Regions from separate parts of the Homo sapiens genome. Here region 1 is linked to region 2. The links come from fine-mapping of genetic effects on plasma protein levels. A gene starts in region 2. The other region holds a variant in brackets. All regions are shown on one strand. Distances are from middle to middle.

Region 1 (12,736 bases), 440 kb after region 2:
GTCTGATGCTGTTAAGGGAAAGTTGAGTGTAGTTCAGTGGTGACAGTGCTGGCTGCCTTGATTCAAGACCTGACTGCTGCATCCTCTCTATTTTTCGTCACTACTGGCACTCAGAGCCTATACTGAGTGTCCCTTTAGAAGGATGTAGAGTTGAAGACCCTCTGCTTTATTTTTTTCATTTAATCTTCTCAGAGTGACAGTATCTTAATCCATTCAAATACCACTAACTGGGTGGCTTATAAACAGCAACACTTATTTCTCTCAGTTCTGGAGTGGGAAAGTCCAAGACCAAGGCACTGACAGATTTGGTGTTTGGTGAGGGCTCGCGTCCTGGTTTGTGGACAGCCGTCTTCTCACTGTGTCCTCATATGGTGTAAAGGATGCCTGAGCTCCCTTGGGCCTTTTTCATAATGGCACTAATCTCATTAATGAGGGCTCCACCCTCATGATCTAACCAGCTCCCAAGAGCCCTGCCTCCTATTACCATCAGATTGGAGACTAGGGACTCAACAGAAGAATTTCAGGAGGACAAAAACATCCAGTCCATTGCAGGGTGGAAGGACTTTCATGGAAAAAGAAAGCCTAAATATAGCCCTGAGGGTAAAGAAAGAAGAGGATGCTGCATATTTAGGCCTGCTTATGGTGATTCCTATGGCTGGTGGGAAGGGAGAGGAAAGGTTTCAGGGGCACCTAGAGAAGTATGTGGTGGGTCAGTCAGGCAGGGCCACATAAGCCAAGGGAAGGAAGTAGCCATGTGCTTGGTGGTCAACATGGTTGAGAGCATTGGCGCCAAAGTGGGATGAGTGAGTCAAATCATGCTCTACCTCTACCTAGCTGTGTGATCCTGGGCAAGTTACTTAACCTCTCTGTACCTCAGTTGCCACATCTGTAAAATGAGATAGGAATAGTTCCCGTGTCACGGGCTGGTGAAGATTAAATGACTCTCTGGAAAGCTCTTAGAACAACACCTGCTTCACAGTAAGCATTCAATAAATGTTTGTTGCAGTTCTTGACATTACTTCATGCTTTAAATTCTCCTGTATAAAAGTTATGGTAAAAAAGGTTGTAAACGCTTGCCTGCCATCATCTGTCAGTCACCAGACTAACCATAATGACACGACTCATAAATTTTCGGAATGAATAAAGGAGTACTGGAGTGTTATCTTGGTGGCTCAGCATGGTGCTGCCAAACAAAAAGAAAGAAAAGAAAAAGAAAAAGAAAAGTGAAACAAACTAAGTTTTGAGTCGTCTCTCGAATAACCACAAAATAAAGGGCTAAGCTCTTTGCCACCTTGGGCTCCTGGGCTCTTAGGGACAGTGCCCAACCAGTACTTTCTAAACTGTGCTTGATGGGTCACATTACTCATTTGTTAATGCAGATTTGGGGATGACTGAAAAGCTGCTGGAATAGAATTCTTAGAAACAGAGTGGAGCCCAGGAATCTGCATCTAAACAAGCAGCCCAGGGGAGTCTGGTGCTCACTGAATTTTGAAACTCATCTGTCATAGGACTAGACTGAGTCTCACTGAGTAAGGAAGTTGGTTGGACAAATCTTACATTGCCAGCCTCTTTTGATGTCTGGGTAGGGGGAATGTTCAGCAGAGCATTCCTTCTGCTAAGTCCAGGCAGATGCATTGCAGTTAGTTTGGTGGCCTCAAAAGCAAACTGTTTTGAACAGGGAGTGCTAAGTAATGGGATGGTGACATGATATGGGTTATTGCTTTGTTTTGCTTTTAAAGTTCTTTCATGCGTATTATCTCCTAAAGAAATCAAATAGATCGCAGATGCTCTTGTTGCAATGCCCATGAGAGGAGATGACTTTATCTGAGCCAGAAATGAAATTCTCAGCAAGAGACACCTGTCTGTTGGAAATTTCAACAAATATTGCCAATAAGATTATATCCCTGTTAACAGTGGGTATCTCTGGAAGGTGGGATAATGATAATTGTTCATTTCTAACATCATCTTATTTTGGCATGGGAGGCAGTGTGTGGAGTGCTTGAAAACACACAAGCTTGACAGAGGCCAACATGGGTTTGTCCTAGTTCCTTTGCATACTGGACACATTATTTAATCTCTCTGTGCCTCAGTTTCCTTATCTGTGAAATAGGGAAATAATAAAATAGAATCTACCTCCTAGAGTTTAAATACATTTGTACCTGTTAAGTGTTTAACAGGTATTAACAATGCTTGACCCTTCTTAGTTGTTGAAAAGAATTAGCTATAGTTATTAACAATGTCATCTTTAAGTACATGCAACTGGTTGTCCTTGGACCATAAAGAAAAATTAAAGCATAAAGAGAAATGCTGCCCAGGTCCTAGAAGCTGATGTGTGAAGGGTCTAGCATATCTGTCATAAGGACCAATCAGGATTTGCTAGGACCCAGCTCTCTGATTTGAGGTCTGATTTTTTTTTTTTTTTTAAACTCTGCAGTGAGGAGTAGGACCCCTATCTGTTTTTCTAACTGTACTTCTTGGAGTGCCAAAGGGAGAAAGGAGAGCACCTGAGCCATGGGGGCTTGGAGCATGGACTCTTGTCCTTGCCGAAAACAAAGCAGCTATAAGTCTATTTTGTAAAAAATATCTATTGGGCTTGAGATTTGATTTTCACAGAGGCTTCTGTGGTAAACAGACAAAAGAGTTGATTCCTACTGGACTTGCTCTCTAAGCAGCCTTTTTTTTCTTTCTTTTTTTAAATCTCATTTTGACATCTGTGATTCCAAAGACAGCACTGTAATTGTCTTTTTTCAGAACAGAGCTCACTTCCAACTATCATAGCATGAGAGTACTCAGAAATTTATTTCTCATAATGAGCCAAAATCTCTCTGCAACTCTTTAAAGGTAGCTGTGGAGCGCCTTACGTGCTAATGAGCTCCCTGTTAATAGAAATGCTCAGGCTTTTGATGGTTTCAGCTCCCAGCTTCACTCATGACTGGCTGTGTTGTACGGCTGGGTAAGTCTCGCCACCTGTCCAAGAAATAAACATAAGGATGTATACAAAGTGCTTGGTACAGTGCCTGGTAGACATCAGCCTTGGCTGCCACTAGCAGCAGCAACACTACTGTTCTAACAATCAGAAGTGACTGGTGCACATCTGCTTGGAATCCTCTTCCCGTGACCCCAGAAGAAGAGACTTATGTTCATGGTTAAGGATAATTTTTAGATGATGCCATTAAGATCTCTCTTCAGTGCCCTTGACACTGCGAATGGGCCATGCACCATTAGGAGATGGGGCCTTTCACAGTTACTACAGGGGCTACCTGGAAACATTGTATGAGCACCTCCAAGAAGTTGTCATGTGACTCTTATAAGGAGTCACCCTAATGCTAGCAGTTAGCTATGCCCACAGACAAGGTGATGGATGGGGTTCCCTAGAGTCCATCCATCCTGCACTCTTCCCTTTGCCCTGTAGGGTATATTTCAGAAGAAAACATAAACTGTGGATTGTATAATCATCCTCTGATGCAAACCAAACTTTGGCAAGTGTAAACGATTATGAAAACAATGCATATGTGAAACACACTTTCCCTGCGCTCTCTGTTTAATATCCCAGGTTGTGTGCCAGGTTTCCCCCCCATTTTCTGCATTTCAGAAATATTTTGTTTTTCATTCCAGACAGTGGGAGTACAAAGGCAGATTTGTGTCATCACTTAATTTGTTAATTCTGCCAGGATTTTTCTCCCACCAACCGGCAATCCTTTTTGAAGTCTTATATTTAAGGCTGGCCTTGAGGAAAATTACATAGGAGCAGCATTGTATTTACCCTTTGTATGACTGCAGGGGATGTGAGTAAAATCAAAACAAAACAAGCAATTTTAAAAACAAAACAGTACCTCTGTGAGTGAATTCCAGAGTAGACCGGTATGCCATGGCCGAGCAAGGTAGAAGAGCAGCTCTTCTTGACCCTGCATGGAACCTAGAGCATGGGGTTTTACTTTACTGAGCCTTCTTTTCCTTCTAAATAGAAACATGCCCTCTGGCATCTTCCCAGAGATGCTGGCTATTTACAGGATTGACATCACCCAGTTCTTTGATTTCTCTGCTGATGGAAGAACAGAATTGTAAAACATCAACAGAAGCTGCTGCTTAAAAAGAATGAAGATGGATGGATGCATGGGTGGATGCATAGATGAATGGGTGGATGGGTGGGTGGATGGATGGATGGATGGATGGATGGAAGTATGCATGGATGCTTGGATGGATGGATGGATAGATGGATGGATGATGGGTACATGGATGGATGGATGATGTGTGGATGGATAGGTGGATGGATGGATGAATGGATGGATGGATGGATGGATGGATGAATGGATGGATGGATGCCTGGATGGATGGATGAATGGATGGATGATGGATACATGGATGCATGGATGGATGGATTGATGATGGATACACGGATGGATGGATGCATGGATGGATGGATGGATGGATGGATGGATGCATGGATGGATAGATGGTTGGATGAATGGATGGATGGATGCATGGATGGATAGATGAATGGGTGGATGGATAGATGGATGGATGGATGGATGTGTGGATGGATCACACACACACACACACACACACACACACACACACACACACACACACACACACTTGCTCTCTCAGCACTTTTAAAGGATCACTTGATTGATTCACTTTAACAGCCTCATATCCTCCCTTTCCACCTGCCCTGACCCCAATTCCTGCTTGTAATTAATTTTTCTTCTGAAGGGAAATATTCTCTCAACTTTTCTCCTTTTTGATTTGGGTCCCAAGGGGTATGAACTCTTGGAGAGTGTTATCCCTCCCTCTCTTTCTCTCTCAGCCCTTGCATAGATGCCTATTATCATCAGTTCAAGCCATGGTATCCAGATATTTTGCTTGGATTTAAAACCAGAGGCAGAAGCTAATGAAGGGCTTTCATGTTCAGAAACAGAGGGTTCCTGGCAGCCTCACTGGCTTCTCCATTTAATTCCATGGTGCTAGGGGCACTCCCACTGCTTAGCACAGCCTGGGGGACTGGCAGATGGCACTATCGGCCCAGAAGGGCCAGTCTTCCCTGGTTCAGCCATTGCCTGTGCAGCCACAGTGCCCGTGTGCAGGGTAGAAACCACAGCGCTAAAAGACACTTGCCTGTGGTCTTCCTAGTTAGTATACTTTGGTGCAAAGAATGAACTCTTGCTGTGGGTGAGCACTCTCGCTTTTCTCAGCCGTAGTTTTCTCATCTATAAAGTGGTTCTGTTATGTTACCTTCAAGCACCCTTACAACTACAGACCTCTGTAATTTTCAATGGAATGTTCTCTTCCTTGTGAAAATACAGAATGTTTTTCTTGCAGGTGGACCTGCACATGTAGGAATGAGTTTGGGTAGCTTTAAGGTTATGCAAAATGGTAGAGACTCTAAGTGAGCATGTAGTGTAGGGGTTCTGGGGTCAGACAGCTTGCCCTTTTTTTTTTTTTTTTTTTTTTGAGACAAGAGTCTTGCTCTGTCACCCAGGCCGGAGTGCAGTGGCATGATCTCAGCTCACTGCAGCCTCTGCCTCCCAGGTTCAAGCAATTCTCCTGCCTCAGCCTCCTGAGTAGCTGAGATTACAGTCATGCGCCACTACGCCCGGCTAATTTTGTATTTTTAGTAGAGACAGGGTTTCACCATGTTGGTCAGGCTGGTCTCGAACTCCTGACTTTGTGATCCACCCGCCGCGGCCTCCCAAAGTGCTGGGTTTACAGGTGTGAGCCACCGCACCTGGCTGACAGCCTGCCTTTAAACAGCAACTGAATTTTATATAATAGGCACTGTGCCCAATGCTCTGCATGGATGATCTCATTCAGTCCTCACATCACCTAAGTTCTGCTAGTATCCCCATTATACAGTTGGAGAGTTGAGGCTTAGAGAAGTTAAGTAACTGGCTGAGGCACTTGGGTGGCCTAGCCAAGTTTTGAAAGCAGACATTCTGGCTTGAGTTGAGCCACTGAACCACTCTGCTGTGCTGCCCCCTGTGGGTAAGTGCACACCACGGCAGGTCTGTATGGAGGAGGTTTTCAGGATTCACTTGGAGCTCTCGGAATGCATAAAGTGCAATACTTTCCCATTGCCGCAAAAAGATATTGCATTTTAAATGTCTGAAATCATGATTGACTTAGCTCCTCAGCCCTGAAGGGTGCAGCAGTGGCTTGAAGCATCAGAACCTTGAAGGAGATTTCTTTGAGGAACACTTTGCTATCTCCTGTTAAAATTAGCAGCAAGCATTCTCAGGGCACTCTCCACTAAATATGTCTGGCAGGAGGGTACACGATACCTCTCCCTTCACTCCCCAAATCCTCCCTGTATTGCAGTCCAGAGCTTTTCAAACTTTATATGCATTCAAAAGGCATGGGGGTCTTGGTAAAATGCAGAGTCTGGCTCAGTAGGTATGTGGGGTAAGGCTGATTGAATTTCAAACAACCCCCCAGGTGACTGTTGATGCACTGGTCTGAGGTCTACACTTTGAGCCACAAGGGTCTAGAGTTTATGATTTTCAGGGAGCTAAGCTGGCTGTATCAGAATGACCTGGAGTCTTCAGTAAGCAGCTTCCCAGGACCTTTCTGGGATATTCTCAATCAGGAGGCCTAGGATAGACTCAGGAAACTGCCAGTGTCCCAGGAACCACACTATGAGAAACGCCGCCTCACTCAGTGGTTCCTGTGATCGTCAGGGTCCCTGGTGGATTGAGGCCAACTTGGGAAACATTGATTATTGGGTTTGGGATGGGGCCAGAAGCCCACTTGTATCCTGTTTCGCCGGGGGAGCCTAATCTACACTCAAGTTTGTGAATTCCTCGCAGTAATTACTTCTTTACCTCCTCATCTTTCGTCTGTCCCTTGGCCCCAAACTCTTCCTCAAGCTAGTGTCCCACTGGCTCTTGTTCCTTCTCCTTTGTTGTAGCCAGTGTGTGACTCCTTGGCCCTCTGCACCTGGCTTTTGCATCCTCCACAGTAATGTTTTGCTCCAAGAATCTCTTAGTTGTCAGATCCAGCAAATGTTGAAATACGCTATTACTTGGCCTTGAAGCGGTACTGGACACTGCAGACTGCCTCTTCGTCTTCTCTCCTTTGTTTGCTGAGATTCTGCCCACTATCTCTTGGCTGCCCTTCTACCTTCTTGGTCTTCCTCCCTGGATCGTCA[G/A]TTGCCTGGAAATGAATTCTGACCTTTCCATCTAATACATTTTCCCTTGCTCATTTATTTCCATAAACTAGTGATCCTCAGATATTTTTATTTCCTGAATGATTGTCCGAAACCACACATTTGCGTCACCATTTCCTTGCTTAACGTGGACTCTGGAGCCAGCTGGTCTGGGTTCACATCCTGGCTCTGCCACTTGTCAGCCAAGAAATCTTGTGCAAGTCACTGAGTTCTTTAGGTTGCAGTTTTCTCATCTGGAGGAGGGATGAAGTACCTCATCTCAGTGGAGCGCCCAGCACTGGGGTTGATGCCCTCTGAGCACTCAGGAGATGTCTCTTTGATTTTCCTTTAATCATTAGTAATAAGTAGTAGGAATAATAACAACAACCCTCCAGTGGCTCCCAGATTGCACATGAAATCAAGTGTGTCTTAGAGAGCCCTCCTGGCTGGTCCCTCCTGTCTCTTCAGCAGCAGCTCCTTCCCTCCTGCTCTCCGCCCGCCAGCTCTGTCTCACACCCTGGTGCTGTGGCACATGCCATTTCCCTCTGTGCCTCTGTCTTCCAGGCACAACACTGGAATCTCACTGGAGCACTCACACCACTTCCCCCAGAAGCAAAGAGCCACGTCTTCCTTCACGCTTCTGGTCAGTCTTGGGGGTTTTTCTGAAGCATATGACCTACTTTATCAACTCCATTTGCTTATAGGTCTGCGTCTCTGTCAGATTGCGAGCTCTTTAAGTTATGCTTGCATCCCTGGCATCGGGTTTGGCTGACACTCATTGTGGACTGTTTGAATGAATGAATGATTTAGTGGCACTGCAAATCAAAACCCAGTCCACTGGTATAGAGGGAGAGCCCTCTGAATGTCTGAGATGATCTTACCTTGTTACATACAAAAACTTAGAAATCCTTCTTGAGTCCTCTGTTTTAGTAATTGCCCACTCTCCCTATTCTAATCCATTAGCAAGCCCAGTCAACTCTACTTCTAAAGCAGTGGGTCTCAGTCAGAGGTGATTTTAACCCTCATAGTCATTTGGCAATGTATAGAGACATTTTTGATGGTCACAATTGGGGTTGCAGCTGGTGTATATGGATAGAGGCTAGGAAAGATGTGAAACACCTTACAATGTATAGGACAGTCACCTCAACAAAGAATTATCCAGCTTTAGTGTGAAGAGTGCTGAGGTTGAGGAACCCTGATTTAGAGGATACTGAGTTCATTCACAGCTCTCTGTCTTCCCCACTCCTGTGCTAGTGTAAGGCACTGTTGTCACTCCCTGGACTGGTCTTCCTGCTTCCTTTACCTCCCTCTGTGCCTCCCTCTGTGCTCTCAGAGCATTTCTCACAGGGCAGCTGAGTGGTCTTTTATAAAGGATAAATCAGGCCAGGTACAGTGGCTCACACTTGTAATCCCAGCATTTTGGGAGGCTAAGGTAAGAGGACCACTTGAGCCGAGGAATTCAAGACCAGCCTGGGAAACATAGTGAGACATTGTCTCTACAGAAAATGAGAAAATTAGCTGGTCAGTAATTCATGCCTGTAGTTCCAGCTACTCAGGAGGCTGGGGCACACTTGAGCATGAGAGGTTGAGGCAGCAGTGAGCCATGATTGTACCACTGCACACAAACTTGAGCAACAGAGTGAAACCCTGTCTCAGAAAAAAAAAAAAAAAAGATAAGGTCACTCCCCTGTAATGACTTCTCATCACAGCTAGAATTCTGAACTCAAACTCCTTAGCCAGGCTGAAGAAGCCCTACCTGACCTGGCTCCTGCTGACCTCTCTGATTCATTGTACCCTCCCCTGCCATCCCTGGGCACTCTGCTTCAGCCCCACTCCACAACCCTTCTTTCTGTTTCAAGTTCTTCCCAGGCTTTAGGTATGTTCTTGAGATGTTGCCTCTGCCTGGCTGCTGTCCCCTCTTACCCTTGGTTGGCTGACTTCTTGTCTTCTAAACCTCTCTGGAACTGCTTCTGCCTTAGATATTCCTTTCCTCAACACCCAAACTACTTGTACGGTTGCCGACTATCACATCTCCGTACATCACCACCTAGCACTTAGCACTGCCTGATTTGTTTTTTGTTTTTTCTTTTTCATCCTCCCCTGACTAGAGCACCATTGAGAGTGAGACCTCCCCTGCCTTGTGAAAGGCTCTATCCACCCATGCTTAGCACAATGCCTAGCACATAGCCAGTTATCAATAGACAGTGATGGGAATAGGAGGGATAGTAATAGTTTACACTTATGTAATGGAGACTAAAAAGTCTAAGTGCTTTACATTTAATCTCCAAAGTAGTTTTGCGAGATGGGTATCATGATTGGCATCTTCATTTTACAGATAAGGAAATGGAGGCATCAGAAGTTATATAACTCAGCTGGGTGAGGTGGCTCATGCCTGTAATCCCAGCACTTTGGGAGGCCAAGGCAGGTGGATCACGAGGTCAGGTGATTGAGACCATCCTGGGTAACACTGTGACATTCCATCTCTACTAAAAATACAAAAAACTAGCTGGGCATGGTGGTGGGCACCTGTAATCCCAGCTACTCGGGAGGCTGAGACAGGAGAATGGCGTGAACCCGGGAGGCGGAGCTTGCAGTGAGCTGAGATTGCGCCACTGCACTCCAGCCTGGGCGACAGAGCAAGACTCTGTCTCAAAAAAAAAAAAAAAAAAAAAGTTATATAACTCACAATCAAAGATCATGTAGCCATGTAGCTAGAAAGTTGCAGAGCTGGGGTTTAACTTAAGTGGTCCAACTCCAGAGTTGTTGCTCTTAATCACCCCACCACAGTGCTTGTTGAGGAAATGAATGTGGAATTTGAATGATGAATTCACACTCATCCTTCCTTAGGGTAGCCTTTGTAGGATTGGGATTCAGTCTGATCTGGGTTCAAATTTTGTAACTGACTCACATTTTATGATTTACTTGCTTGTGTGATGGGGTTATGGTGTGGGAGCACCAAAAATCTCTTGTCTTATAAAGAGTTCACTTCTAATGTTCTGGATACTTCTCTCCATCCTCACTATTGATCATGCTTCCTTTGTTGTTTTGGTCACAAGGAAACTCAACTAAAATTTGAGCCCTGATACTAGTAATCATATAATAGTTTGTGGAATGCTTTTGTCTATTACCTTTCTTTTCTGCTTTTCCTTATAACATCCCATTTTCCACATTTTAAACTATTTATTTATCTCAGCCAACTCAATTTATGAAAATATGAATTTATAACAGATAAATATGTATATAAAAGTGTGTCCCTGGACAGGTTACCTAACCACTGTGATGCTTCCTGTCTTCTGTGCAGTGTTGGTAATCATTCCTGCCTCACAGTTTTTTGGTGGAGCCTAAGTGGGGTAAAGTCCACGAAAGCCCAGAACACACAATAAACATTTAGTAAGAGTGTCTTCTTCCTCTTCCTCATTTACGGTAAAGATGAGGAAATCTTTTTTTTTCCCCTGAGACAGAGTCTCGCTCTGTTGCCCAGGCTGTGATGCAGTGGTGCAATCTCGGCTCACTGCAACCTCCGCCTGCTGAGTTCCAGTGATTCTTCTGCCTCAGCCTCCTGAGTAGCTGGGACTGCAGGCACGTGGCACTACGTCTGGCTAATTTTTGTATTTTTTTAGTAGAGACGGGGTTTCACCATGTTGGTCAGGCTGGTCTCGAACTTCTGACCTCAAGTGATCTGCCTGCCTTGGCCTCCCAAAGCGCTGGGATTACAGGTGTGAGCCACTGTGCCTGGCCAAGCATGAAGCAATCTTGTGCTGGTACCTGGCATAGTGGAGGTGATAGAAGGTGGTTTAATATGTCTTACTGAGCTGCTAAGCAGCAGCTGCATGTCTTATTGAGCTGCTAATTGATACTACTAACTGGGGAGCTCCATTACAAAAACCCACAATAAATGATAGGCTGTCATCATGCCCTGTTTTGGGCGGCTCTTTTCACTATAATAAATTGGTTTTTGAGCAGCAGAAAGATAATAGGTTTAGTAAGTAGAAAAGACTCGACCACAGGGGGCTTGTGCATAAAGCTCAGCCTGGAAAATGGAAAGCATTTATCAGTAAGACCCACAGAAACTTTTATTACTATGGCAACTGGGTCTTTGGTAAGTCTCTCTTTAGCTAGATTATAATGTAGTAGTGAGGAATATCAACTGTATGTTTCAATTGCTTATTAGCTCATAAAATTGCCAGTTTGCATATTAATTGTTACTGGATAAAATAGCCCTATTTTTAGGTGACCCAGTCACCCATTTTCTGATACCAAGCCACTTTGGGAACTTAAAAAAAAAAAAACAGTAGTTATAGTAATAAAAACTCTTAGCCTTAGACAGGCATCTTCTCATTTAATCCTCCCAGCTACTCTGTAAGGTCAGTTTCATCTCCCATTTTACAGATGAGAGAGGAAAAGCCCAGGGCAGTTAGGTAACTTGTCCAAGGTCACGGTTCTGGTAAGGTGTAGATCCAGGATTTGAATCCATGTCTGTTTGATTTCTATGATAAAAATAACTTTATAGTCTTAACCATTAATATGGGCTATAGCCCATATGATATAGAATATAAAGTTTCTGTAAATCTGAAAAGGCAAAAAATCCAAGAGTATTGACCTTTCCCTAGTACAGGGTTGGTTCTTCAACCTCAAAAGTATTGACATTTTGGGGCCAGGTAAGTCTTTCTTTTTGTTACTGAAACACCAGGGGTTCGGTCTAGGTCCTGTTACTCGACACACAGAAAGCCAATCACTGACACGACGATTATTGCCAAGGAAGAAGCCTTTAATTAGGTGCTGCAGCTTAGGAGATGGGAGCTCAGTCAGTCTCAAATCCATCTCCCTGACTGACATGGTTTGGCTGTGTCCCCACCCAAATCTCATCTTGAATTGTAGTTCCCATAATCCCCACGTCATGGGAGGGACCTGGTGGGAAGTAATTTAATCATGGGGGTGGTTACCTTCATGCTGTTCTCATGACAGTGAGTGAGTTCTCATGAAATCTGATGGTTTTATAAGGGGCTTTTCCCCCATTTGCTTGGCACTTCTCGCTGCCGCCATGTGAAGAAGCACGTGTTTGCTTACCCTTCCACCACGATTGTAAGTTTCCTGAGGCCTCCCCAGCCATGCTGAACTGTGAGTCAATTAAACCTCTTTCCTTTATAAATTACCCAGTCTTGGGTATGTCTTTAGGTGTATCTTTATTAGAAGGGACTAATACGTTGACCCACTAAAACTAGCTTTGTATAGCAGGGAAGAAATGTAACAATGTGTAAGAAAACAGGAACTGGGAAAGGGCAAGGAAACGATTATGATGAATAGAGAGTCTCTGCATTTCATTGTCTGGATGTGGTGATCTGGTGAGTTTCAGCTCTTTGATACTTTTTTGAGAGGCCTGAAAGTCCTTCCCTGAGGAAGGAACTGAAATAAAACAAATGTAAACTTCAAACTTAAGACCAGAAGGGTTATCCACACCCACCCCACTACATCCCCCAGTATTGCCTAACTTTGCCTGGGGAGGAATTGGCTAATTAGGACTTTCCTGGAAAAAAGCAACTCTTTCATTTCTGATGTCACCAGTCTTCTTAGATCTCAGGATTTACCAGAAAGTTT
Region 2 (12,612 bases):
CTGAGACATCTTATACCCACAACCCTTGATCAAAGGCGCTCCTGTTTACATACCCAGGGCCGCCAATTCTGGTGTTTGCTGGTGCCATTGATGCTTCTATTGATGCTGTTACTAGTAGTGAGTATAAATTTTGCAATCAACCTGGGCACAGTGGCTCATGCCTGTAATCCCAGGAGTGAGAGGCCAAGGTGGGAAGATCGCTTGAGCCCAGGAGTTCAAGACCAGCCTGGGCAACAAATTGAGACCACGTCTCTACAAAAAAATTAAAAACTTAGCTGGGCATGGTGGCATGTGCCTGTACTCCCAGCTACTTGAGAGGCTGAGGCTGGAGGATCCCTTGAGCCCAGGAGTTCGAGGCTGCAGTGAGCTATGATTGCTCCACTGCACTCCAGCCTGGGTGACAGAGCGAGACCCTGTCTCAAAAGAAAGCCACAAAAAACAGATTTCACAATCACACAGACAGATGTACAAAAATGTCACATTAGTACTCTCTATCTGATCATAACTCTTAACGTGAGCATCCACACATCCATTAATACTTACATATCATTCCCACAATGAGTTATAAAGTAAAAACGTATGCAGTATAAAAGTGAAAGTGCCCCCCACACACAAACATCTTCTTGGGAGTAATGCCATTAACAGGTTAGTGTGTGTCCTCCAAGACATTCTGTGCAGCTTCATGTGTGATTTTTAATATTTATTGAGTGCCTACTATATGCCAGAAACTGCATTATAACTTTTCACTTGCTCTAATCCCATAATCTCATTGAATTCTTGTAATACTTCCGCAAGGCAAGCATTAATATCCTATTTTTACAAATGAGAAAACCAAGGTGGGAAGACTTCTATAGTCCAGCTACTCTCACTTATCCTAAAAAGCCATGCAGACCTGTTGTCACCCCTAACTAAATGGCCCTCCCAATGGGGAGAGATGAAGACAAAGTTTAACATCATGCTTTGATCTGCTGACTTGATTTTGCCCTGAGTGAGAGGGGGTATCATGCACAGGAGCAGAAAAACAGGAGGAAGCTTTTTGCTTGTTACCATTTCCTGTTAACTATCTCAGAGTTGTTGTATAATCTTTTTCCCCCAAAAAAATTTCACTCAGCAAATAAGTCAATAATCAGTGATTACCTGCACTTTCTTTCTCTGACTTCTTTGGTTAGCTCTTCTGCTTATTGAAACAGGTAAGCAGAGAAAAGTATTTAAAAATAATCTCTCTCTCTTTTCCCTAACTTTTCTTGCTCATTTTCCTTCCCCACTTCCTTTCTTTCATAAGTGCTAGTAACAGAGATAGAAGAGTCCAACGCAGGCAGGTCACTTGAGGCCAGGAGTTCAAGACCAGCCTGACCAACACGGTGAAACCCTGTTTCTACCAAAAAAAAAAATACAAACATTAGCAGGGTGTGGTGGCACATGCTTGTAGTCCCAGCTACTTGGGAAGCTGAGGCATGACAATCACTTAAACCAGGGAAATGGAGGTTGCAGTGAGCCGAGATCACACCACTGCACTCCAGCCTGGGTGATGGAGCAAGACTCTGTCTCAAAAAAGAGAGAGAAAGCACCATGGAATGGGAAAGGAGTGTCTAAATATTCTAGCTTTTTAGCAATCCTTGGTTTCTTTTTTCTGTCCTCATTATTGGAGTTTTAGCAGCCATTGTAACATACAGGTAACATGCACCTGTAACTATGTGGAAAACATGAGATAGAGATAGAATCTGCAGATGTGAGTCACACTGGGCAAAGACGGAGTGTCCTGTAAAACCTCTGAGGTGAAACTCAGGTAAAGTGCATTCATGTTCTTGGTGTGTCAGGAACTAGCTGAGAACCTAGGGCTCATCACGCAACTCTCTGAAGCTCAGCTTTCTTCTTCATCAGTAGGAACAGTAACTAACCCCTGCCTTACTACCCCTCCCTAGCAGGTTGTTTTGAAAACCCAATGAGATCAGCCTGTGAAACTGCTCGGCCAAACTGCAAGGAGCTAGATAATAACCATTGTTATTCCTCAGCTTTTGTCCTGCTATTCCTCAGGCCGAGATTGTAAAATGTAGCCATTTTTTAAACTCAAGCAGCAAGAAGTGGCCTTTAAAGTTTCTTTCTTCTTTTATTCTTCAGGTGAAATGAAAGGGAAGGAGACATTCAGCATCAAGTCTCAATGTGTGGTGTGAAACAAACACACCCAGCCCCACAGAGGCATCTTCCCTGGGGCAATCTCAGAGTTTGCTCATGGGAGGGGCAAAACCAGAGGAGAAATGACAGCAGGTGTTCTTGCATTGCCATTCTTGTCCAGGCTGATCTGCTCCCCAGACAGAGACAGTGCCATTTCCAGGATTGCCAGGCCAACCCTCCTCTTTCTGGATCAATCACATCCCACTCAATAAGGTATTAATCCTGTGGAGCTTTCTGTACTGCAACGTACCTCCCAGTAAATGGGCTTGGGCTTAATCATTCAGCAGAGATGAGGATGCAGGTAGTACCTATATCAAACAGCCTTGAGAAAGACGACGTGCAGGTACTAAGGAGAGAGGCAATTCCCCTGTAAGAGTCCCCTTTGCTAATTCACCAGTGTTTCTCAGCCCCAGGAAGCCAAGTGGCATTGTAGTTAACATAACCTTGGTCTTTTGGCAGACAAGAGTTGGGGTTCCTCTTTTACCCAATAGCAGAAGTCTTCTGGTCTGAGGCTTACTCTAATGATGCTCCTTTTTCCCATGAATGAAATGGGAAAATAAGATCTTGCGGTGTTGTGGGAGGATCTTAAAGATTAAGTGCTTGGAAAACTCTCAGCACACTGCCTGACGTGTAGAAAGTATGCTGAAAATGTTAAATTGTGTCTACCAGAAATCCCTTCAGGGACCCCCCAATTTGATCCCTAGAAAAACCTTGACCTGAACTAGAAGCTGAGATCCTGAATGGATCCTGAATGGGAGTAGCCCTGTTTTACATGATGTAAGAGGAAAGTTTCACCTGTTTCCCCACACGGGCGGGAGAGAGAAAGGAAAGAGAAGACAGCTGCATGGATGAAGACCTTGCGCAGTGCAGTGACCTCTCCTCAGCGAGCCCCACCAGATCTTCAGGAAAGTCAATGAACTCATGATATCTTGGTCCAAATGCAGGCGGGGGGGTGGTTAAGGCAGTGAACTTCACACCCATGCTGATGTGTGTTGGAGCCAAAGTCACAACTGTGAAAGCAGGAAGTGGACACAGACAGAAGTTTGAGGCACAAAGCTCCAGGGACTCTCAGGAACAGGGGAAAGTCTTTGAACCTCCCTGCCACCGAGACCATACAATAGGAATACAAATAGGAATTTAGGCTAAGTCCAATTGGATCTCAAAAAAGCAGGTGGCTTCAACTGACAACAGGGTACATCATTATTATCATCATGATCATCACCATCACTGCCATCACCAACATCATCAAATGATGTTGTCTGCCTATGGAATGCAAAAAGCTGATTTTCGGCAACCAAAGCTAGGGCCCTGGAAGCTAACACATTCTTAACCAGGGCTGCATTACCTAAGAACTTCTGTTTTTTCACTCACCTGATTGTGGAAATATCAAACTACCTCTACGCTCACTATTCCCCATCAGTGAGTGTCTGTAAGTTATCCCTTGCCTTTTCCTACTCTTGCCAGCCATTTTTCAGTCCAGCAGCAATGGCTTTTCCTGGGTCTGGAAGTCTCCTGGTCTCCCACTTAGGTGACTCACTATTCCGAAGCCACTTTTCTGCACTGCAGTAAGCCCCCAGTTACAAATTACTTACCTGCTGGCCATCATTTTAATGTAAATGGATTTTAAAAAGCAGCAAAGGAATATATTTTCATTTGGAGTTAAAGCATCCATTTTTTATTTGAGTGTGAGCCTGGTCTAGGAGAGATGGCAGAAGAATGGCTCCAAGGCTAATATGGTTAATGATTATGATGGAGATCCCATGAGCAGCCGATATTTCACTTGCAACCATCTCGATCCGGGCTTTGCTGGCTGCAGTACTTTCTTTTTTTCACAGCTACTTCCATTAACACCCACCGCCTATGATAGAACCATTATGATAATATCTCTGCTTTCGGCAGCCTCAATTGGTCTTGACACATTATCACCCTAAGAGCTTAGCCACGTCGCACTAAGTCCTATTTATAATAACCCTTGGCAGGAGCTACCAAAATAAAACCTGGTACTTATGAACTACCTTTCATCTGAGGAAATCAGAAAGCTTTACAAGCTTAATTAAGCTTCAGCATCTATCTGACTGATGAGATATGTGGGGCCTTGGAAAGCTGAGGAGGCACAGAATCACTAATTGTGCACTGGATAAATCTCTGGGTGGCAACGAAGAATAGAAATCAACAAAGAAGAACGAGAGTCACCTCTTTTAGTGGGAGTGTTTGTTGAGTGAATTTTTTCAGGGTGGGTTGAGACCAACAATCATAGGTTATTGATGAAGGGGCCATGGAGGGTCTCTAATGAGGTGGCTCTCAATCTAGGGCGGGGGCCTGAGATTTACTTCTTTTGCCAAAAGAGGATTAAGCTAATTCAACACACTCAAGGGCTTTCAAGGACAAAGAAATTGAGCTCCTGAAAGATGTGGTAATCTGCCTGTGGGCACACAGCTGTTGAGCTCACACACTGTTCCCTCTACTTGGCTGAATCTCCCACCCCACCTGTAAATCTCCACTTCCCCTTCAAGACTCATCTTAACACCTGCCTCCTCGGTGAAGCCTTCCTGGACTTCCCTGGCAGAATCAGTCACTCCCTATTCTATGCTCCTGCGTGTGCTTTCTATTTCCATAATATCTACAGCAATTGATATTTATTGAGTCCTTTCTAAGTGCTTAAGGTACATTTTATCCATACAATAATGAGGCAGGTACAGTTACCATCTCCATTCTACAGATGAGTTAAGTGGTCCGGAGAGGCTAAGTGATTTTCCCAAGATGGTACAGCTCATAGGTGCAAGACTCAGCCTGGCTGCAGAGCACATGTTCCAAAACATTAAACCACACTACTTTCCCAGTAGCCCAGTTGTGATGGAAGAGATCTGTTTGTTTATAAGTCAGCCTCCTTCCTTAGTTTGTAAGCTCTGATGTGAAAGGGTATGTCATTCAGGAGAATTTGGGCTGCAAACAACAGAAACCCCAACTCAGAGTAGCTTAAACCACAGGAAATCTAGAGGAAGGGCATTTCCAGAGTTGATTAACTTGGGGGCTTGGTGACATCAGCAAGGATCCAGGTTCCTTCCATCTCTCTACTCTGCCTTCCTGATTGTGTGAACGTAGTTCCCCTTGCATTAACATGACTTCCTCAGTTCCAGGCCTCCCATCCAGCCTGAACCATGCAGAAAAGGTGCCATATCTTTCTTGTGTCTCTGTAAGAGTACAGACAACTTTTCCAGAAACCTTCCACTGGGCTTCCCCCGTAACATTCACTAGCCAGAATGGTCTCACATGCCTAAGCCTTAACCAGTCACTGCAAGGAATTGAAAGCACCATGACTGGTTCAGCCCAAACAGGATTCAGCATCCCTTAAAGGTTAAAGGCACAGAGGATGAAGGTAGAGACCTGCCAAAAAGGAGGAAGGGAAGGCGGAGGATGAAAAGAAGACAACAAACGTTCCCTGATGCAGGTGTGAAGGAAGATCTGATGCCCAATCACTTATTCCTCAGTCCTTTGGCCTTTACCATGTGGGCAACAAATGTCTGTGGAACTAAATTATAGTAGAGAAATTCATGTCTCCAAATGCCCAGTCCAGAATTCTTACCATCATACTCTGTAACCAGGACTGAAATATGTGTTGGCGACTGCTCTAAAATTTACTAAATTGATTCACCGGTGCTCCAACCTTTAGATTCGAGTCTTTAACACTAGTGTCTGCAGGAACCTTTGCAAAGCAGGTCCAAAAGAGAGCTAGGTGGAATAAAGAGAATCGTAAAAATGTGTCTCATCACAATTTACAAGGTTCTTGTCAACCATGACTTTCTTTCCAGAAACACAATGTGTTCTTAAAAGTGGGACTTGTTCAAGCAGATAGGTTCATTGCATTCAAAGACTACTCTATTTCCTGACCTCCTTCTAGCTCTCCAGTAGGATTTATCTGGAACCAGGCATCAATATACCCACCCTTGACAGCCAAGAATGTGAGAATGAGATCAGTTAAGCAATTTTTGGAAGACCCAGATCATAGTCAAATAGAGATACCAAGAAAAGGAAACTGATCCTCAAGCAGAAACATAATGTACCCTAGGGTAGAAAAGACGGGAAGGAGGGAATGGCTTAGTTCAGGCTTACTATAACAGAGCGCCATTGGCTGGGGTAGTTTAAACAACAAACATTTGAGCGGGCGCAGGGGATCACACCTGTAATCCCAGCACTCTGAGAGGCCAAGGCGGGGGGATCATTTGAGGCCAGGAGTTTGAGACCTGCCTGGCCAACATGGAGAAACCCCATCTCTACCAAAAATAAAACTAAAAATAAAAAAAATTAGCCGGACGTAATTGTGGTGGCACACACCTGTAATCCCAGCTACTCGAGAGGCTGAGGCAAGAAAATTGGCTGAGGCAAGAAAATCAGTGTAGGTTGCAGTGAGCCGAGATTGTGCCACTGTACTCCAGCCTGGGTGATAGAGCAAGACTCTGCCTCAAAAAAAAATATATAGATAGATACATAGATAGATAGATGATAGATAGATAGATAGATAGATAGATAGATAGATAGATAGAGATATCTATCTATCTATCTACATATAGAGAGAGAGAGACAGAGAGAGAGAGGTTGGGAGGTCCAGGATCAAGGTGCCAGAAGACTGGGTGTCTAGTGGGGCTACTCTTCCTTGCTCATAGGCAGCGGTATTCTTTCTGGGTCCTCACATGATGAAAACAGAGCTGGAGAGCTTACTGGGGTCTCTTTTATAAGGACACTAATCTCATTTATGAGGGCTCTACCCTCATGATTTGATCACCTCCCAAAGGCCCTACCTCCTAATGCCACCATATTGGGAGTTATGATCTCAACATATTAATTTATGGTGCAAGGAGGAACACAAACATTCAGTCCGTAACAGAGATACATACATAATAAAATTATAGCCCAGGGGGTTAGAAAACTCCCCAGGGTCAAAGAGTAGTGGCCAATGTAGGAGTCATACCACTTCCATGGAATATTATACTCATCTCTGACATCTTTTGTCCCCTCTCTTCCTTTTTGTAGAAGCACGTGGAAGGGTACATTTGGACGCCTCTGTCTTTTCCAGGGGCTTATAACTCAGGAGATCCAGAAAAGGTCAGGATTGAAGGAGGCAGACTAGTGAGAGGAAGCCAGAAGCTGTCTGCCCGAGGCTGGCTGGAGGCTCTGGGCATTTAACAAGAGTTACACTGGGAACCTTGGTAGAAGCCAGGTGGTCCAGCTCCATGGGGAAGAAATATTGCAAAATTATCAGGAAAGACACCATTTCAGGCATAAAGCAGGTGCATTGAGCTGGAACACCACTTGTATTAGGTCTCTCAAGACCAAGTGAGACTTGGTGGAGGACAGCAACAAGAGAAGGAAGACATCCCCATCTGAGCACTGAAACAGTGAAATAGAAAGGAAATAGAAAGGAAAAAGAACAACAACAGCTATACTATAGTGAACACTTAGATGCTCTTTTAAGCACTTTAAATATAAGCACTAATTTAATCATCACAATAATCTATAAGATTTGTTCCTATTACTAGTAATCATGAGATATTGTATATTGTTATAATTTTTGTTAGTAATACTAGTAATACTGTTCTTATTGCATTTTACAGATATATACACTGAGGCACAAAGGGGTTAAGTAACTTACCCGAAGTCACATGCCTGGTAAGTGGCAGGACTGGGTTTTAATGAGACAATCTGGCTTGACAGTTCACACTCTTAACCATTTCACTTGGGAACAAACCCCAGAGAACACATGAAACCAAAATTTCATCTCAGTTGAATCTATTTTGATTTAATGTAATAATTTCTGCACCTGACATTTCCCTAGCAGTTTATAATTTACAAAAGGTTTGGTCCCCATCATTTTGGAATCGCAGCCCTGCCACTTCCTTGCTGCATGACCTCATTCCACTGATTGGCTAAGCTTCCACTTCCCCATCTGTAAAGTGGGTATAATAATACTTTTGGGGGGGTTTCATGAGATAAAGCACATGCAGGGTTTAGCTCCACACCGAGCCCATAATAAGAGTTCAATAAGTGTTTGCTGCCACTGATGCTGTGGTTATTATTAATATTTCACTTGAGCTGCATGACAACCCTGTGAGTTAGGAAGGATTTATTAACTTATTTCTCAGGTTCTGAAACTGAAACTCACAGAAAGTAAATAACTAGAACAAGGAACAAGCCAGAAAGTGCTAATGCCAGACTTGGAAAATATTCCAATTCCAAGCCTCCTCCCCTGCTTCCAACCCTCAACTCCACCTCCTCTCTTTCCCCCAGGAGGCACCATTACATGAACCAGATCATTCTTCAAACAGGACTGTGGAAAAGTTTGAAGATATTGGAAGTTCAGGCTCAGGGATAAATTCTAAGGAGTATTAAGAAAGTCATAAAAGTGCAAATGGATTTCTCATCCCCAAGCAACTGCCAGAGGGCAGAAGTGACTGAGGTGATTAACTATGCTACCCCACAGAGCCAAAGTGGTTTGGCCACAGGTGGCAGGGGAGTGTCCTCAGTCCAGAAAATAAAGGAGAATGGGAGTATTTTCATCTAACAGCTAAACAGAGGCATGTTTTTAAACCCTGTCTCAAATAATCAAATACCATTCCAAAACTGCATTCCACTTTGAGGAAGGGGCAGTGTTTGTTCCTTTGGTTTTCTGTATTTCTGCATTTCAATTAATTTGTTAAAGTTTAACAAATTAATGCATCCTGTTCTGGTACATGATGCATTCAGTCCTATGGCTATAGGCAAAGGGCTGCTCAATGATAAAATTAGTCCATCTTATGAGGTGTACGATCTTAGTCAATTTATTTAAGTCTGGGTTTTTTTCATCAGTACCAGCAATATGGTTAGGAGATTCCAGGATTTCTAGTCTCTGGATTTGAAGCCAGCCCTCCCAGAATTAAAATCATGTGCTTCCCCTCACATCTATCATGCAAAACCCTCACCAATATTTTTTCTTTTTCAAATGAGTGGAAGTTCTTATTTTGTATTCTTTAATCAGCTGAACAATAACTCACAACCGTTGGACAAAATTGTTTTGCATTATTTAGTAGTAAGGTATTTAATTTAAAAAAACTTGATACATGCTACTTGCATCTCATTAGCATTCTAACGATGTATTCAGCAAATTGTTGTTGAACACACACTAAGTGCCAGGCATTGTGCCCAGGCAGCCATAAAACAATGGACAAGACAGACTCCCCAGGAAGTTTACAATGGTAGTTACTTACAGCTTTTGTTAGCAGCCAAAAAGACAGAGACCCCAACTACTTTGGATTTCTCCATATCCCCTAGGACATAGCTTGGTACACAGTAGACATTTAATAGTCTTCCGAATTTAACTTCAACAATTAATCATCCAGTTAAAAATGTCTACTTTTCTCCAATTAGATGATACTCTACTTATGCCCACTAGGTGGCGATCTTGCTTATAGTTTGCCCACGCTGAAAGAGGCTGCCTTTCAAATAAATACATATATATCCCAGTAGAAGTTAAACCAAAAGACAAAAAAATTAAATTTATTGAGTGCTTATTTAGTGTAATATACTATGTTAGGTGGTATAAGAAATAAAAAAATAAGACATAGTCCCTGCCTGCTAGGGAAAGATGAGGAGGGGCTTACATAGGCCAAAAAAATAAGACCTTTGAATGGATTAATATATTTCGATGCAACCATATGGGAGCCATAGTAATCTCATTATCAGATAAGAGTTATAAAATGGCATGGTATAGCCACCATGTGGTTGGGAACAGATTCAACAGTTCATCCAGTATGTACTTAACCACACCAGTGAAAACACTTGACTGTATCCTGGGTCAGTGCTGCAATACTCCAAATGTGGTTTTTTGATGCCTCTGCTCAGCCATAAACATAAGAGTGTCTGCTTTATCACCCTGGAACGCTCTATCACCCTAGAACGTTTTTTCTTTGGAGAATAAAACATAATCAGTGCCAACTGATGAGGTAGTCCAGTTGAAAACCCCCATGTGCACCTGATGGGAAGATGAAAGGAGAGAAAAGATACACACCATGTAAGGAAACAGATTTCAAACTCTGGCCTTTGAGAGGTGGATTCCACCATGCCCCTGATCTTGTGTCTACCCTGGGAATCTCAGTGTGGATCTGGGACTCATTCTGATACAGAGAGGTAAGGGAGGGCCGACTGGCATCCAAGTTTTCCTGGTAAATGTAACCCAGAGGTGGCTGGAAGATGTGTTGGGGTGAAGAGGTTGTTCATTTTGTTTTCTTTGCTCCTTCACCACCTCCCTCCCCCACCACCACCACCATTTCTTTTTCCCTTAAATCGTAAAAGCAGTAAATCAAATGCAGTATGGGATTGAGGTTTTTTTCCTTTCCATTTGAAAAATCCTTTTAATTGAAAAATCACATTTGGGGAACAAAGTGGTCAAATGACAGTGAATTTCAAACTTGAGAATGCTGACTTGATTAAAAAAAAAATACTGATCTTTCTTAATGGAGGGAAAATCAAGTGCATGCGGCCAGGAGACCTGAGTTTGACTTTTAGCTTCGCCCCTTGCTAATTGTGCAATCCTGAGCAACACCCATCCCTTCTCTGTGCCTCAGTTTCCTCATGGACAAAACGGTATCATTTCTTTCGAAAAGTCGTCCCTGACTCCCCTCTCCCCAACACGAGGTTGGATGGCTATAATCTCTCTTAGCAACCTGAGAGTCCCACTGGAATGTAAATTTCAGCAGCACTGGGACCCGGATCTGTGGATTTTGCTTCTGGTAAGCAGAACCAGAACTGAGGGGCAGTCGCTGTGTTGAATGGATGCATGAATGAATGGGAGATGGCCTAGGTGTTCAAGGGGCACGTGCACAGCGAGGCTTCATTCCCTGGGAGTCCGTTGGGAAAGGCAGAGCGGCCAATACTGATTGGTGCTGATGTGCGAGCTCGGAAAAGGGAGTGTCGGTTCAAAGTTGTTGGCTACAGCGGGTTCCTCTTTCCGCTGGAATCACATCCTCTGTGGCTCGGAGACATTCCCAGAGATTTACATAAAGCAGCGTGAATCACCCAGACAGAAACTGAGAAAGCAAAGGGACCCTGCCTGATCCTAGCCTGGCGGAGCTCGGAAAGAGGTGGAAATCTGTCTGAAGTTTGCAGGAGACCCGCGCTGCCTAGGCAAAGGGACCCGGCGACCAAGACACCCCCGCGAGGGCCCAGGGCGCGTCCCTCCCGCCAGGCCCCAGACTCCGGCTCTGCGCCACCCCCTCCTACGCCCCGGCGCGGGCGCAGCCAGTCCGGCTTCCTCCAGGCCCCCAAGTCCCGGACCGAGTGTGGGGCCGCCTCTCCCTCTCGGAAGGAGCCATCGCCGCTTTAAGTGGAAGAGGAGAGGAAGGGGGCGGGGGAGCGGGGGGCGGGGAGCGGAGGCGGAGGAGGGGGAGGGGGATCCCCCTGGCTCCCACGTGGTCCGGGCGCCTGTGAATCGCGCCCACCGGAGGGTCTCACAGCGAAATACAAAAGCAGCTGGGAAGCGGCGGGGACTCGAGTTCCCAGCGCCGGGCGGAGCGCCGGACAGAGCCCCGCAGCGCCCCGCGGCCGCGATGGGGCCGAAGCGCCCGAAGCCCCGGAGCCCACAAACTGCCGGGCCCGCCTCGCCGCCGGGACCCGGGTGCCTGGGCTCGGCTTGAAGCGGCGGCGGCGCACCGGCACAGCCGCGGGAGCATGGGCAGGAGGATGCGGGGCGCCGCCGCCACCGCGGGGCTCTGGCTGCTGGCGCTGGGCTCGCTGCTGGCGCTGTGGGGAGGGCTCCTGCCGCCGCGGACCGAGCTGCCCGCCTCCCGGCCGCCCGAAGACCGACTCCCACGGCGCCCGGCCCGGAGCGGCGGCCCCGCGCCCGCGCCTCGCTTCCCTCTGCCCCCGCCCCTGGCGTGGGACGCCCGCGGCGGCTCCCTGAAAACTTTCCGGGCGCTGCTCACCCTGGCGGCCGGCGCGGACGGCCCGCCCCGGCAGTCCCGGAGCGAGCCCAGGTGGCACGTGTCAGCCAGGCAGCCCCGGCCGGAGGAGAGCGCCGCGGTGCACGGGGGCGTCTTCTGGAGCCGCGGCCTGGAGGAGCAGGTGCCCCCGGGCTTTTCGGAGGCCCAGGCGGCGGCGTGGCTGGAGGCGGCTCGCGGCGCCCGGATGGTGGCCCTGGAGCGCGGGGGTTGCGGGCGCAGCTCCAACCGACTGGCCCGTTTTGCCGACGGCACCCGCGCCTGCGTGCGCTACGGCATCAACCCGGAGCAGATTCAGGGCGAGGCCCTGTCTTACTATCTGGCGCGCCTGCTGGGCCTCCAGCGCCACGTGCCGCCGCTGGCACTGGCTCGGGTGGAGGCTCGGGGCGCGCAGTGGGCGCAGGTGCAGGAGGAGCTGCGCGCTGCGCACTGGACCGAGGGCAGCGTGGTGAGCCTGACACGCTGGCTGCCCAAC

Evidence for each region. A credible set is the group of variants that fine-mapping cannot tell apart. PIP is the posterior inclusion probability: the model's chance that the variant is causal. Sun 2018 read protein levels with aptamers (SomaScan).
Region 1: its variant is the best candidate, but not a certain one, in a credible set for the plasma level of the FJX1 protein (Sun 2018, PIP 0.72).

Annotation. Positions count from the first base shown.
Region 1 is chr11:36,050,562-36,063,297 of GRCh38, forward strand. The region is part of intron 2 of LDLRAD3 (low density lipoprotein receptor class A domain containing 3); the gene reads left to right. LOC101928510 (a long non-coding RNA gene) reads right to left here. Exons shown (of 2, transcript NR_135064.1): 2 at 12,722-12,736. Among named protein-coding and RNA genes, the nearest start is that of MIR3973, 47 kb to the left of the region's middle. The variant G/A (reference allele first, on the strand shown) is at 7,145.
Region 2 is chr11:35,606,769-35,619,380 of GRCh38, forward strand. FJX1 (four-jointed box kinase 1) reads left to right here and starts at 11,692. Exons shown (of 1, transcript NM_014344.4): 1 at 11,692-12,612. The coding sequence starts at 11,869. RefSeq lists silencers at 11,280-11,369, 11,400-11,729, 11,551-11,712, 11,810-11,879, 11,900-12,159 and 1 more and an enhancer at 12,012-12,612.